3 separate regions of the Homo sapiens genome follow, and all the other regions are reported to be linked to region 3. Evidence: microRNA targets listed by miRTarBase, many of them from high-throughput screens and not tested one by one. Region 3 holds a microRNA gene; each other region holds the end of a gene's coding sequence.
Evidence for each region. The annotated mature microRNA hsa-miR-4292 reads CCCCUGGGCCGGCCUUGG and lies in region 3 at 1,860-1,877, shown strand. An mRNA with a match to its seed (bases 2 to 7 or 8) in the 3' UTR can be bound and repressed. Matches are read on the target gene's strand: a 7mer-m8 pairs with bases 2 to 8, a 7mer-A1 pairs with bases 2 to 7 and ends in A, and an 8mer does both.

Region 1: miRTarBase lists RIMKLA as a target of hsa-miR-4292. Seed matches in the 3' UTR shown: 7mer-A1 at 808-814.
Region 2: miRTarBase lists ZNF445 as a target of hsa-miR-4292. Seed matches in the 3' UTR shown: 7mer-A1 at 1,725-1,731, 7mer-A1 at 1,853-1,859 and 7mer-m8 at 3,227-3,233.

Annotation. Positions count from the first base shown.
Region 1 is chr1:42,414,659-42,418,851 of GRCh38, reverse strand. It overlaps RIMKLA (ribosomal modification protein rimK like family member A), which reads right to left. Exons shown (of 5, transcript NM_173642.4): 5 at 1-4,193. The coding sequence ends at 3,878. Among named protein-coding and RNA genes, the nearest start is that of RIMKLA, 36 kb to the right of the region's middle.
Region 2 is chr3:44,443,156-44,447,348 of GRCh38, reverse strand. It overlaps ZNF445 (zinc finger protein 445), which reads left to right. Exons shown (of 8, transcript NM_181489.6): 8 at 1-4,193. The coding sequence ends at 774. Among named protein-coding and RNA genes, the nearest start is that of LINC01988, 17 kb to the right of the region's middle.
Region 3 is chr9:136,829,137-136,833,329 of GRCh38, forward strand. It overlaps MIR4292 (microRNA 4292), which reads left to right and starts at 1,821; the gene lies at 1,821-1,887. RABL6 (RAB, member RAS oncogene family like 6) reads left to right here. Exons shown (of 15, transcript NM_024718.5): 5 at 257-348; 6 at 2,585-2,725; 7 at 3,129-3,234.

The DNA of each region.
Region 1 (4,193 bases), not on the chromosome of region 3:
AAGGCTATGCCTGCACACAGCACTGTGGTTCATTAGCCTCTGGGAGGGTCAGCTTTTATTTGGGTGGTCCTAAAACTCCCCAGCCAGCCGCTTACATCTTCCTCAGATTTGCATTCAGTGTTCTCAAGACCAGCATTCCTCAGGATTTAAAGAAGGGAGGAAGCACATCTCCCCCACTTCTCCAGGGTGGATGGAAATCCATGCATCTCATTATCTTTATGCAGAACAGCTTCAAAGACATCTACCTCTGATCAATACATATTCATGATTCTTTCATTAAAACAGCCCACAGAAGAGCCATTTTTTCCTCCTTCCTACTAGAATTCCAAATCATCCCAATTTTTTATTTCTTTCACAAAACTATTCCAGACCTTTCCCTTTTCCCTTTCCTCCTCTCCTGGTCCCCATGGTCATGGAATCTCCTTTTAGCTGGAAGCAATGGGCCTGAAATTGTGACACTAGTGGCTTATGATCTACTTATATTGTTTCTGAGATCCGAAAGACCTAAAGCCCCAAATCCTCATTCTGGCAACCCCATACCCGATCAGAAAAACAGCATGAAGACATTTTTCCCAAGTGCAGAATCGTATATTCTGAGTGACTGAGCTATTGGCATTCAAGTTTTGACCAGTTTCAAGATGCTACTACCAGATAATGGGAAGACCATATACAGACACTGCAATCTATGTTACATAAGGAAGACTTTGTTAGTTGGTATACAAGAGTGGAGAGTTTCAGGTTATATACGATACATCCAGAAGGCTGTCTGAATACACAAAGAGCCTTATTCCTTTCAGGTCTTAAGTTTCCCTGGCTGGAAGTGAGGCCTCTGAGAAGCTGCATTCCTTTCTCAGGGTACCCTACCACTGTTTGGTGTGCTAATGCCAAGAATGTGTGGCTTTTTTTTTTTTTTTTTGAGACGGAGTCTCGCTCTGTCACCCAGGCTGGAGTGCAGTGGCATAATCTTGGCTCACTGCAGCCTCCACCTCCAAGGTTCAAGCAATTCTCCTGCCTCAGCCTCCCAAGTAGCTGGGACTACAGGCGCCCGCCACCATGCCCGACTAATTTTTTGTTCACTGTGTTAGCCAGAATGGTCTCAATCTCCTGACCTCATGATCCACCCGCCTCGGCCTCCCGAAGTGCTGAGATTACAGGCGTGAACCACCACGCCCGGCCTGGCCTTTTTCTTTAAGGAGTGATGGGAAACTGTTATAAAATCAGATGTGGGAGGTGCTCTACTACCATTAATTTACATGCACCAGTCTCACTTACTTCAGCTTCAAAGAGGTAAACAAAGGAGGCATTTTCTCTATCTGAGTGAAACATGGAGACGCAGAGTTCCTGTGATTGCACGAGGTCAGCTGTTCAAGCGGAGAACCAGAACCAGGCTCTGGCTCTACACCCCATGTTCCTTCAGCAGGCCTGTGGCCAGCTGTGACAAGTATAGCCTGGCCACCTGGCTGAGGCTCACAGAGCCCACAGCCAGCATGGTATGGGAAATCCTGGATTGGGGCTGGTTGTGGTCCAGCTGTGATCCAGCTTTCTCCACTTCTAGACAGGGCTAGTGCCAGGCAATGAAGCCAATGACTACAGATGTCACTCACAGCTGGAAAATGGGCCTCCTTTGGCAAAGGAATCTGGAAGCACTCTCTAGCTGCTCTGCTCAGGCTGGGGCCCTGCTAGCCTCCTTTTAGATAAAGTGGGGAGACTAGATTCACACCAAACAGTGGAAATGAGGGAATGCAGCTTCCAGACGATCATCACTTGGTTAAGTTTGCACAGAAAGTGTAACCAGTTCCAGTGAGAACAAACCTAAAGCTGTCCGTCTTTTAAAGCCACCCTGAGTGGTAAAGATAAGGTACATATCTTAACCTATATAAAGGTGAAGTATTATTTTTCAACTGTACAAGACACATTACTAGGGTTACAGTTCAGTGGCATGCACCTTATGTTGGACTGCATTTAAACTACAACTGTGTAGTGTGACATCTCCATTACATGGCACCAAACATTTGTCAATTGCACAACTATTACTTGGTGAGATCTGGTTTTAACTACAATACTTTAAAAGCCAATTTCTATTTAAATGTGTTATGAAAAAATGCAATAGCTTAACTTTATACACATTTTACATTTATGGCAGAGTAAGTACGGTAATTTCTGCACCCGAATGGGTAGTGTTGCCTTTGAAGTAGTCACCTTGGGAAGATGTATGTTTATTCCAGTGAAGCTGACCTTACACAGAACATTCCTAGAACCCTCTTTAGAAACTGTCAACTTGTAAGGGTCTTCAGTGTTGGTAAATCTTTGTCCTTTAAGGGTAGATCTATTTTTTGAGGAATGATTTTTTTTTTTTAACAGCTAAAGAGCATTAGAAAATAAGTCTGCTAAATAAAATGGGTGAAGCAGCTCAGGATGATCTTGGTGGGCAGGAGGAGGGGTTGGATAAAACACAAGGTCTGACTATAAAGTTGTGAGGCCTCTTGCCTTGCATGGCTTCAAAGGTAATCCCAAAGGGGAACCCTAAGTGTTCTTGGCACATGCAACATCAAGAAAATAACTCCAATTATGCTAACTCTTGAGTGCATATGTTCTAGTGTATTTGGTTAAAAAGGTGGCTTTGTTCATTTTCAGTCATATTTCGTATAAGCAGAAATGGAAAACTCCATCTCTGTGATTTCTCCCAAGGGAAAGATCTCATCTACTGCTTAGAGAATTAAAATGAAAAGCACTTGGTGTCATGTCTACATTAGCCCCCCCCCCCGCAAAATGTGCAATGGGTAATTCCTGATACCTGAGTCTTCCCCGTTTGGAAAAGTGGGTAAGGACAGGTGTCTGGATCTTAGATAAAAGTAGAGTTTCAAGGGGATTGGAGTGTTTCCAATGGCTCCCATCTACTCAATAGACCTCCAACACCCACTCATACAAGAAAACCCCCTACAGCTAAGCAGTACACAAAGTTTCAGTAGAGGAGGGGAAGAATGATGATCTCCAAGTAGCTTTCTATGGTAAAAACCCACTGGCTTCTGGATGACAAGTGAACAGAGTCCATTGAAAAACAAAGTCCATGGTGTTAGATTCTAGTGCACGCTTAAGAAATAAACTGAGTGGCCACTAGCTCATTGAAGTGCATTTCCAGCTGAGGCCAAAGGCAGCAAAGGTGCAAGAAGCTGCTAGAGCTGACGTTAGTTGAAGCAGGGTCTATAAATTCAGAGTGGCAAAGCAATTTGTAGAAAGGCCCAGTTACAAAGCAGGACATTTGCCAACCTGTGAAGTCAAAGAACGTTCAATCTCACTTTCTACAAAGTGCTTCACTGAAAATGCTAATGAGGAAGCTCCCTAAAACACCATATCCTGAGTGTCGGAGAAATATGGTCAAGATGGTGATTGATGGGGAGCAGAGATCGATCCTCTAATAGTGTTTGAACTGTGTCTTTTCCAAGCATCACACACACACTTAGTGAAGAACCTATTACTGCAGTCACATTCCACCTCGTCTGCACATGCTTCCATCCCGTGGTTGCTTTTGAGTACATAATTCCAAGAGCCATTTTGAGCTAATGGGTTCTACTGCTAAAAGTCAGAAGCAACAGCAGAGTCAGTGCCTTAGCGTCAGCCGTAATATCCACGTGCTCACAGCAGACATCAGTCTCATACTGATCAGTCGGGACGTTGTTCTTGAGTGTTTTTATATTTGTCTTTGTAAAAACCACAAAGCTAGGCCATTTGCTTAAATCATCGTTAGAAAAAATGCTGAGTGCCCAGATGGGATTTCTAGTTTCTGTGCAAATGAAATCACATTAGTCCAGATTTTATTCACTCAAAACTACTAGGGAAGCAGTAGGATTTGGTTTAAATGCTGCCAAAAAGCAGGAATTCACTTAAGTTTTAACTCAGAAGCAATCCTGTTGTTAATGTTGTAGCCAGGTTCGGGCAGCATGGAGGGTGGGGCCCCCATTGTGCTTGCTGAGGAATCCCGGATCTCTCCCAGTTCAGGCTCACTTTCACTAGAGGTAGACCCACTGTTGATGGTATAGACGCTCTCTGCAACTCCCTGAGCTGAAGCACAGCCATCCGGCTCGTTCTTCTCCCTTGGACTCGACAGTCCTGGGAGGACAGCCATCTTTCCAGTCTGCCTATTTGGCAGCAAGGACATGGTATAGTCTGCAATGATCCCACCCACATCTAAGTTG
Region 2 (4,193 bases), not on the chromosome of region 3:
TCATTCCTCCTCATCCATCAGAGAGTTCACACTGGAGAGAAGCCATATAAGTGCAGGGAGTGTGGGAAAGCCTTCAGATGGAGTTCCAATCTCTACCGACATCAGAGGATTCACTCTCTTCAAAAACAGTATGATTGCCATGAAAGTGAAAAGACTCCAAATGTGGAGCCAAAAATCCTCACTGGTGAGAAACGTTTTTGGTGTCAAGAATGTGGGAAAACCTTTACACGTAAAAGAACCCTTTTAGATCATAAGGGAATACACAGTGGAGAGAAGCGCTATAAATGTAATCTATGTGGGAAATCTTATGATAGAAACTATCGCCTTGTTAACCATCAGAGGATCCACTCTACAGAGAGACCTTTCAAATGTCAGTGGTGTGGGAAAGAGTTCATTGGGAGACATACCCTTTCCAGTCACCAGAGGAAACACACCAGAGCAGCACAGGCTGAACGTAGCCCGCCTGCACGGTCTTCCTCTCAGGACACAAAGTTGAGATTACAGAAGCTAAAACCAAGTGAAGAGATGCCCCTCGAAGACTGCAAAGAAGCTTGCAGCCAGAGCTCCAGGCTCACTGGACTCCAGGACATAAGCATTGGGAAAAAGTGCCACAAATGCAGCATATGTGGGAAAACTTTTAACAAGAGTTCACAACTCATTAGCCACAAGAGATTTCATACTCGAGAGAGGCCCTTCAAATGCAGCAAGTGTGGAAAGACCTTCAGGTGGTCTTCGAACCTGGCTCGGCATATGAAAAACCATATTAGAGATTAGCCTGGGACCTGACAGTGACAGTGGGGGTGGGTTCTCAGTCCCCTGCTAGAGAACCCTTAATTATAGGCATTGTGGAGTAACTTTGATAAAGGGCCCAGCCCTTTCTGTTTTGGAAGCTAGTGACAGAATCCCAAGGATTTGAAAGCTCGGGGAGTCCCCAGCCTGCCTGCTAGGATGTGACGCTGGGGAAGTGCAGCACCATGTCCTTTGGAGCCCTTCTGGAGACTCCGGCCCCTAGGAGTGGCCTCTGCACCATAGCCTGCGGCTCCCCTATTCAGGTCTCCTTCCACAACTCTGAAGAGAGAGACCACTGCCCTTTGTGGTTGGACAGAATATCTGTGGCATCATGGGCTATGGCTGCTGGAAAGGGGCCAGTGGGATCCTAGATTTGTCTTCAAGTTTGGCCTGTGGCCATGCCTATTCTGTTGACTTTAAAAGCAGCAGCATCAAGAACTCCTAGCCTTCCCAAATGCCCCCTGGGGAGTTCTGGCTGGGGCTTCAGCCTTCCTGGCTGGCTTTTGGATATCTGCTAGGGGGTTAGAGTGGTCTCAGCGGCAGGTGGAGGAGAGCAGGATGCTGGGCTCAAGCGCTTGGCGTGTGGATCTCTACCAGTACCCTGTTGCCATCCCCATCCCACAGGCCTGCATAGGCAGCAGCGGTCCATCTGTTTAACAGAAATGTGCTGAGCACTCCCATACACCAGGCGCTGGTGTGTTTGCCAGAGACCCAGCAGGGACCAGAACAGATGAAAATCCTGCCATCTTGGATCTTTACAGATGACAAACAAATGGGATACGCAGTATTCTGGATGGTGATGTGTGTAGTGGACAAAGTGAATCAGAGAAGAGCAGAGGGAGTGCTGGATTGGGAGATCAGTCGTGATTTTAGATAGTCTGGTCAGGGAGGGCCTCAACTGAGAAGGTGAAATGTGAGCAAAGACGTGAAGGAAGCCAGGGAGGTAGCAGGTAGCTCTCTAGGGAGAGTTGCAGGCAGAGGAGATTGGGTCTTGACTGGTGTCCTCAGGAAGGAAGCCCCTGGGATGGAGTGCAGGGAGCCAGCTGGAAGGGAAGGAGAGGGGCCAGGGAGGCCACAGGCCCGGCCATATGAGCATCATGGGTCATTACGGGGGCTTGAGCTGGCTCAGAGGGAGGCAGGGAGCTTTTGGACAATTTTGAGTTGAGGAGTGATGTGGTTTGAATCTGAATTATATTTTATAAGGGTTAACCACAGATCCAAGGACTCAGTAAAAGGGTGAAAGGCTTCTCATGCAGTTAGCCTTGCTGCCAGTTCCCATAAATCAGACTCCTCCCCACTCCGTTTCTGAATTTTCTATAGGATCCTCGGCCTCAGCAGATATAAACGCTTACCATTGTTGTGTTCATGTCTCTAGCCCCTGCACACTGCAGGCCCCTCTCAGCTTCACATACCCCTCTCCATGTATGAGATCTGGTGCTAGCAATCAGATTCAACCCGAAGGAACAAGTGCATGTGCCTGCTGCTCTCAGGAGAAAAGGCAGCCTGTTCTGGGAGGAGCTCCCTCACTGGCCCACCCACTTGTGTTGAAGCAAAAAGCAAGAATCAATTACTTAAAGGCAAAGGAGTGATATTGCTAAAGCATGTGAGTAATCATTGCTTCTGATTATTGAAGAGGTCAGATTATGAATGAAAGGATAAAATGTTTTAATAGTAGAGCAGTGTCCTGACTATAGGGGCCCGTTCATGGAGCTGGTCATTTCTTGAAATGAGAAGAAACCAACCTGGAAGATGTCTTTTTCAGTAGAGTATGGAATAATCTTACCTGCTCTGGATTGCCATGAGCAGGTGAAAATGAAGGCTCTGATATTGTGTGGTGGTGTCACAGGATGGTGGGGGCGGGGCAGAAGTCTCCTGTTGGTGTTCTGATGCCTGTTCAGCTTTGTCCTCAGGAAGGTTTGGTCATCTTGGTTCTGCCATCCTCTTGCCTTCCTACGGCAGCAGCTGTTCATGGCACTGAAGATGTCCCTTCACTGTCCCAAAACTGGCACTAGAAGTGGCTGGGCAGGGGGGCCAGAGTCATAGGAAGGGTCTTGGAGTCATCAGATCTGGGTTCCAGGCATGGTGTGCCTTTTCTTGGCAGGATTGATCTTGAGCAAGTCAATGAACCTCTGCATCAATTTCCTTATGTGTGAAGTTAGAGTGCTTGGCTGTGCTACCTGATTCCTGAGATTGGTGAAAGAGGGCTTGGTTTACCAAGGCTCTCCATCAGGTGGTTGACCTCTAGGACCAGGGCCCTCTCAGAGGTGCAGCTTCCATGTCAGTTGGTGTTGTAACCATGGAAAAGTCCCTTTCCAATCAAACTTTTAGCACCCCTTTCCCCCCATCTCTGCTCCCTTTGCCACAGGATACCTTGTAAAGTTCCTGCCCCAGTATAGGGATATTTTTACTGTCTTTTTTATTTTTTGAGACAGGGTTGCCCAGGGTGGAGTGCAGTGGCAGGATCACAGCTTACTGCAGCCTTGACCTCCCAGGCTCAGGTCCCATCTGAGCCTCCCGAGTAGCTGGGGCTACAGGTGTGTGCCACCCTGCCAGCTAATTTTTTATATTTTTTTGTAGAGACAAAACTTTTATTTTTTTTTCCCATGTTGCTCATGCTGGTCTCAAACTCCTGGGCTCAAGCAATCCACCCACCTCTGCCTCCCAAAGTGCTGGGATTACAGGCGTGAGCCACTGTGCCTGACCTGTCATTTTTATAGAATGAAATGTGCTTATTTCTAAACATTCTAATCAAATTTTAAAATGTGCAAAGAATGAAGTGAAAAACTGAATTTTTTTTTTTTTTTGATACGGAGTCTCACTCTGTTACCCAGGCTAGAGTGCAGTGGCGCGATCTCCGCTCACTGCAAGCTCTGCCTCCTGGGCTCACACCATTCTCCTGCCTCAGCCTCCTCAGTAGCTGGGACTACAAGTGCCTGCCACCACGCCTGGGTTATTTTTTATATTTTTAGTAGAGACGGGGTTTCACTGTGTTAGCCAGGATGGTCTCGATCTCCAGGATGGTCTCGATCTCCAGGATGGTCTCGATCTCCTGACGTCGTGATCCACCCGCCTCGGCCTCCCAAAATGCTGGGATTACAGGTGTGAGCCACTGTGCCCGGCCAAAAGAACAGAAATTATTTTATCCTGAAGTAAGCTGTTTATATTTGGGATTATACTGAACCTATTTGTCCAATAACCTGAGTTTTCAAATAATTTTAGTTCTATAAGTACTATAATTATATAAATATTAATGAATTCAGATTAGCTGAAAGGAAAAAAAGTAGAAGCCTGACTACTTGGTGCTAACTACTAAAGATTTTGGCAGAATCAATGTTGGATTTGGCTTTCCTGTCCCTTCCCCATGCCAGCCCCCCAGAGTGTTCTGCCTTGTGCTGCCTCCCTTC
Region 3 (4,193 bases):
GGACACTGCTGTGATCAGTGGGAGGTCCTGGGTAGGAGGCTTGTTCAGGGAGCCATCAGCGAGGCTGGTGTTGACCGTCAGACCCTTTGGGGCAAACCTATGTTTAGCTATCCCATCTCTTCAGCATATCGTTTCCAAATGGAAATGGCTGTTATCTTTTCAGATTAGAAGACTATCCAGCCTTTTCTAAAACTGTGGGCCACACGGGTGGGGCCCAGCCTGGGCCAGTCTCACACCTGTTCCCTCCTGTCCCCAGGCGGAGTCTGAAATGGCCCTGGATGCTGAGTTCCTGGACGTGTACAAGAACTGCAACGGGGTGGTCATGATGTTCGACATTACCAAGCAGTGGTAAGAGGGAGCTGGCGGGGGCAGCTGCCTGTGACTCTCACCCCCCTAGCCCCTTGGGCGCCCTCTTTGTGCAGCAGATAATGGTTAGAGCAGCATCGTTCTGCAGGACCGAGGGACTCTTGCTGGGCAGCTGTGGCAGCTCAGCCACAAGGGGCACTGGCCTGGATGTCGGGCTGGGCAACGACTATGCCTGTGCCTATGGGGCGGGATGGCGTGGGCCGGCTGCAAAAGGCATCTGGGGCAAGGCACGCACCTTCCATAGCCCCACTGTTCTTCCTGAAAACCCATCTGAGACTTGGCGGAAGCAAGTGGCTGCTTGTGCTGGGGGCTCCCCGCGACCTCCGTCTTCATGACCTAGGAGGACCCACAGCCAAGATTCATTCTAGCAAGAAGATGACAGCGAAATCAGCTAAGGGCAGTGGCACACAGGACGATCTCTGGGGGACCAGGCGCAAGCCCCCAGAGTCCACTGTGGAGTCGCATGGGATCCACTCAGCTCCTCAGGAGTGCAGTGTCCCCCAGGACGCACCGGAGCCCCAGCGGGGGGGTGCTGCGGACGCACACTTGGCACAAGGCTCCTAGAAGAACGAGGGCCGCGTGAAGACCAGTGTCCTGGTGCAGGGCCCCTCCTAGCCACAGCCAGTGCCCGGAGCACCAGGAGCAGCATGCCCGACACGTCCAGGCATCTGCTCTTCCCAGCAGTGGGTCTGGCCTGGGGGCCTAGTCAGCAGCTTCTCTTACTTGGGAAGACCCCCACACCAGGGTTAAGCGTACCGCCTGTCACGGGGCCGCACACTCAGCACGCATCAGCAGCCCAGGCCTGAGGGCGGCTTGAAGCACCTGACCAGCCATGCTCTGGGCCTCTGCCAACCTTTGCCAATGCTGGGAACCATGCCTGCCCTCCCAGCCTTCAGCACCACCACCAAGGACTGACCGCAGGCACCCTCAGGAGAGCCCTCGGTGGGGGTGTGGCACACGGATGGCAGGAGAACCACACACGGGGCTGGCGGCCCCACCCCAGGGCACGAGTTCAGCTCGGGCGCACACGCTGGCCTCACCTGGGCGAGCAGTGGTGCTCCTCTCCCTCCGGCCTCTCCTGTCTAGGCAGCAGGCCAGCCTGGTGGGTGGGAAGTGGCTTTTCCCAAGCGAAGTTGAGTGTGGACACAGTGTGGCCTCCACGGCACCTCCCACTGCTGCCACAGGAACGGCCTGGAGGGAGCTGCAGCCGCCTGGGCTGCCGTGCGAGGAGTGGGCGGGAGTGACAGCGAGACTTGAGCCAGCCTGAGAAGACGCGGCAAAGGCGCTTACCTGTGGGCCCGGAGACCCTGTTGGCAGCACCAGCCTGGGCAGGCGATGCCTATGGTAGCAATGCTCTGTCTGGAGCCCCTGGTGCCCAGCAGGAAGGATGGAAAACACTGGCTCAGACAGCGGCTTCAAGCACCACGCAGGCCCTTCACAGCCACGAGAGGCAGGAGACACCAGAAGGCCACCTGCTTAGGAGGCCAGAGGTGCCCCTGGGCCGGCCTTGGTGAGGGGCCCGTTTAAATGACTGCGTGTAAATGAAAGAAAATGAAGTTAGAAACAGGATGTTGCATTTTTTACTCCCTTATGTTGGCTTTCAGTCGTGGGGAAGTTTTGTCACTTGAAGCGCTGGTTATTTCTTCACAAGCCATTTGGAAAACCACGCAGCTGGGAAACTGGCAGTTCCACGCCAGGCAGACTCTGGAGACTTGCCGTCCGTGCCAGGAGATGTCTGCTTAAGACAAGGCTCTCCAAACAGCCCGCTTCACCGGCAGCCGCAGAGGCACCCCAGGGTGTCCTCGGCTGCCCCGGTGGGCAGGGAGCCTGGAGGACCAGCCACAGGGTCGACACCAAGGGGCACAGAGGACAGTGCGGAATGAGGGTGGACACAGATGAAGCCAGAGGTGGTTTTGTAGGGATGCGGACATGGGGTGCTCTGAGGGAAGGCAGGGACAGGCAGGGGCGTTCCAGTGTGGGGTGCGGTCAAGTACCTGCCGTCAGGGAGAGGGACGGGCGGGGGCTGCAGGCTGAGGGGTGCGAAGGCCCTCGAGGCACTTCCCTCTAGCTCTGCATGCACGAGGCATGCTTCTGCTGGGTTGGATGTTGGAAATGAGAAGCAGCCACCATCCTCGGGCCTGGGCGCACAGCACCTTTCCAGGGAGGGACAGGGCGTCGCAGGGCTGAAACTAAGCCAGGTCCTCACCTGTTCTCCGAGGACCTTCAATTACATTCTCCGGGAGCTTCCAAAAGTGCCCACCCACGTGCCAGTGTGCGTGCTGGGAAACTACCGGGACATGGGCGAGCACCGAGTCATCCTGCCGGACGACGTGCGTGACTTCATCGACAACCTGGACAGGTGGGTGCGGTGGCCCTGCTCCCGAGGGACCCTGCCCGGTGCTCCGGTGTGCGGGGGAGGGTGCTGAGGCAGAGGCCCAGGGAGGGGTTAACGTTAGCATGGGGCCCGGCGGATGTGGGTCTCGCCGCTGAGTGGGGCTCACTGAAGCCTGGGTCTCCCCGATGGCAGGGCCGGGAACTGTGTGCTGGGGAACTGTGTGCCAGGGTGAAGTGCTGGCACTGTGGGGTCACCTGCAGAAGGGCACTCGGCTTAGCTGCTTAGCAGGGCTCAGCAGGGTCCTGTGGCCTCAGGAGCCTGCAGGAGGAGGGAGGGCAGTGCGGACCCACAGCTGTGGGCCCAGGGGTGATCCTTGGCACCAGGGCAAGGGTCTTTCTCTTGCATCTTTTTTCCTTTCTGAAAGCAGACCTCCAGGTTCCTCCTACTTCCGCTATGCTGAGTCTTCCATGAAGAACAGCTTCGGCCTAAAGTACCTTCATAAGTTCTTCAATATCCCATTTTTGCAGCTTCAGGTAAGCACTCACCACGTGGGGTGGAGTGGCTGCTGGTCTCTCACCTCCTTCCAGGTGTCTCCTGTGTAGCAACGGGTCTCCCTCCTAACCCCTGAGAAAGCTGTGGACCTGCTCGGAGATTGGCTGCTGGCAAGGGCCCAGCGTTCTACTGCACCTGCCTGCTCTGGGTGGCAGAGGGTACAGGGTCCTGAGGGCTAGACCCAGTCCCAGGAGCCCCTCCACCTCTGCGGGGACCCCTTGCTCAGTTTCCCCCAGTGTTTTTGGTTGTTTTTGTTTGTTGAGATAAGGTCTTGCTGTGTGGCCCAGGCTGGAGTGCAGTGGCGCAATCATGGCTCACTGCGGCCTCAAACTCCGGGGCTCAGGCAATCCTCCCACCTGTCTCCCAAAGTGCTGGGATGCCAGGCGTGAGTCACCGAGGTACTCGCTGTTCACATCTCACATTTCCCTGGTGCTTGTGTCAAAACCAAGGAACCAACTTTGGCCTACGGACTAAACTCACTTTCCTTTGTAGAAACAAGGGCCAGGCCAGCTGTGGCTGCAAAGTAGCCCAGCAAATGATGAGGCTTGAACCTCCTCGCCCTGGGCTGCCCTGATTGGGTCTGGGGGACCTGAACCTCCTCGCCCTGGGCTGCCCTGACTGGGTCTGGGGGACCTGAACCTCCTCGCCCTGGGCTGCCCCAGCTGGGTCTGGGGACCTGAACCTCCTCGCCCTGGGCTGCCCCGCCTGGGTCTGGGGACCTGAACCTCCTCGCCCTGGGCTGCCCCGCCTGGGTCTGGGGACCTGAACCTCCTCGCCCTGGGCTGCCCCACCTGGGTCTGGGGACCTGAACCTCCTCGCCCTGGGCTGCCCCAGCTGGGTCTGGGGGACCTGAACCTCCTCGCCCTGGGCTGCCCCAGCTGGGTCTGGGGGACCTGAACCTCCTCGCCCTGGGCTGCCCCAGCTGGATCTGGGGGACCTG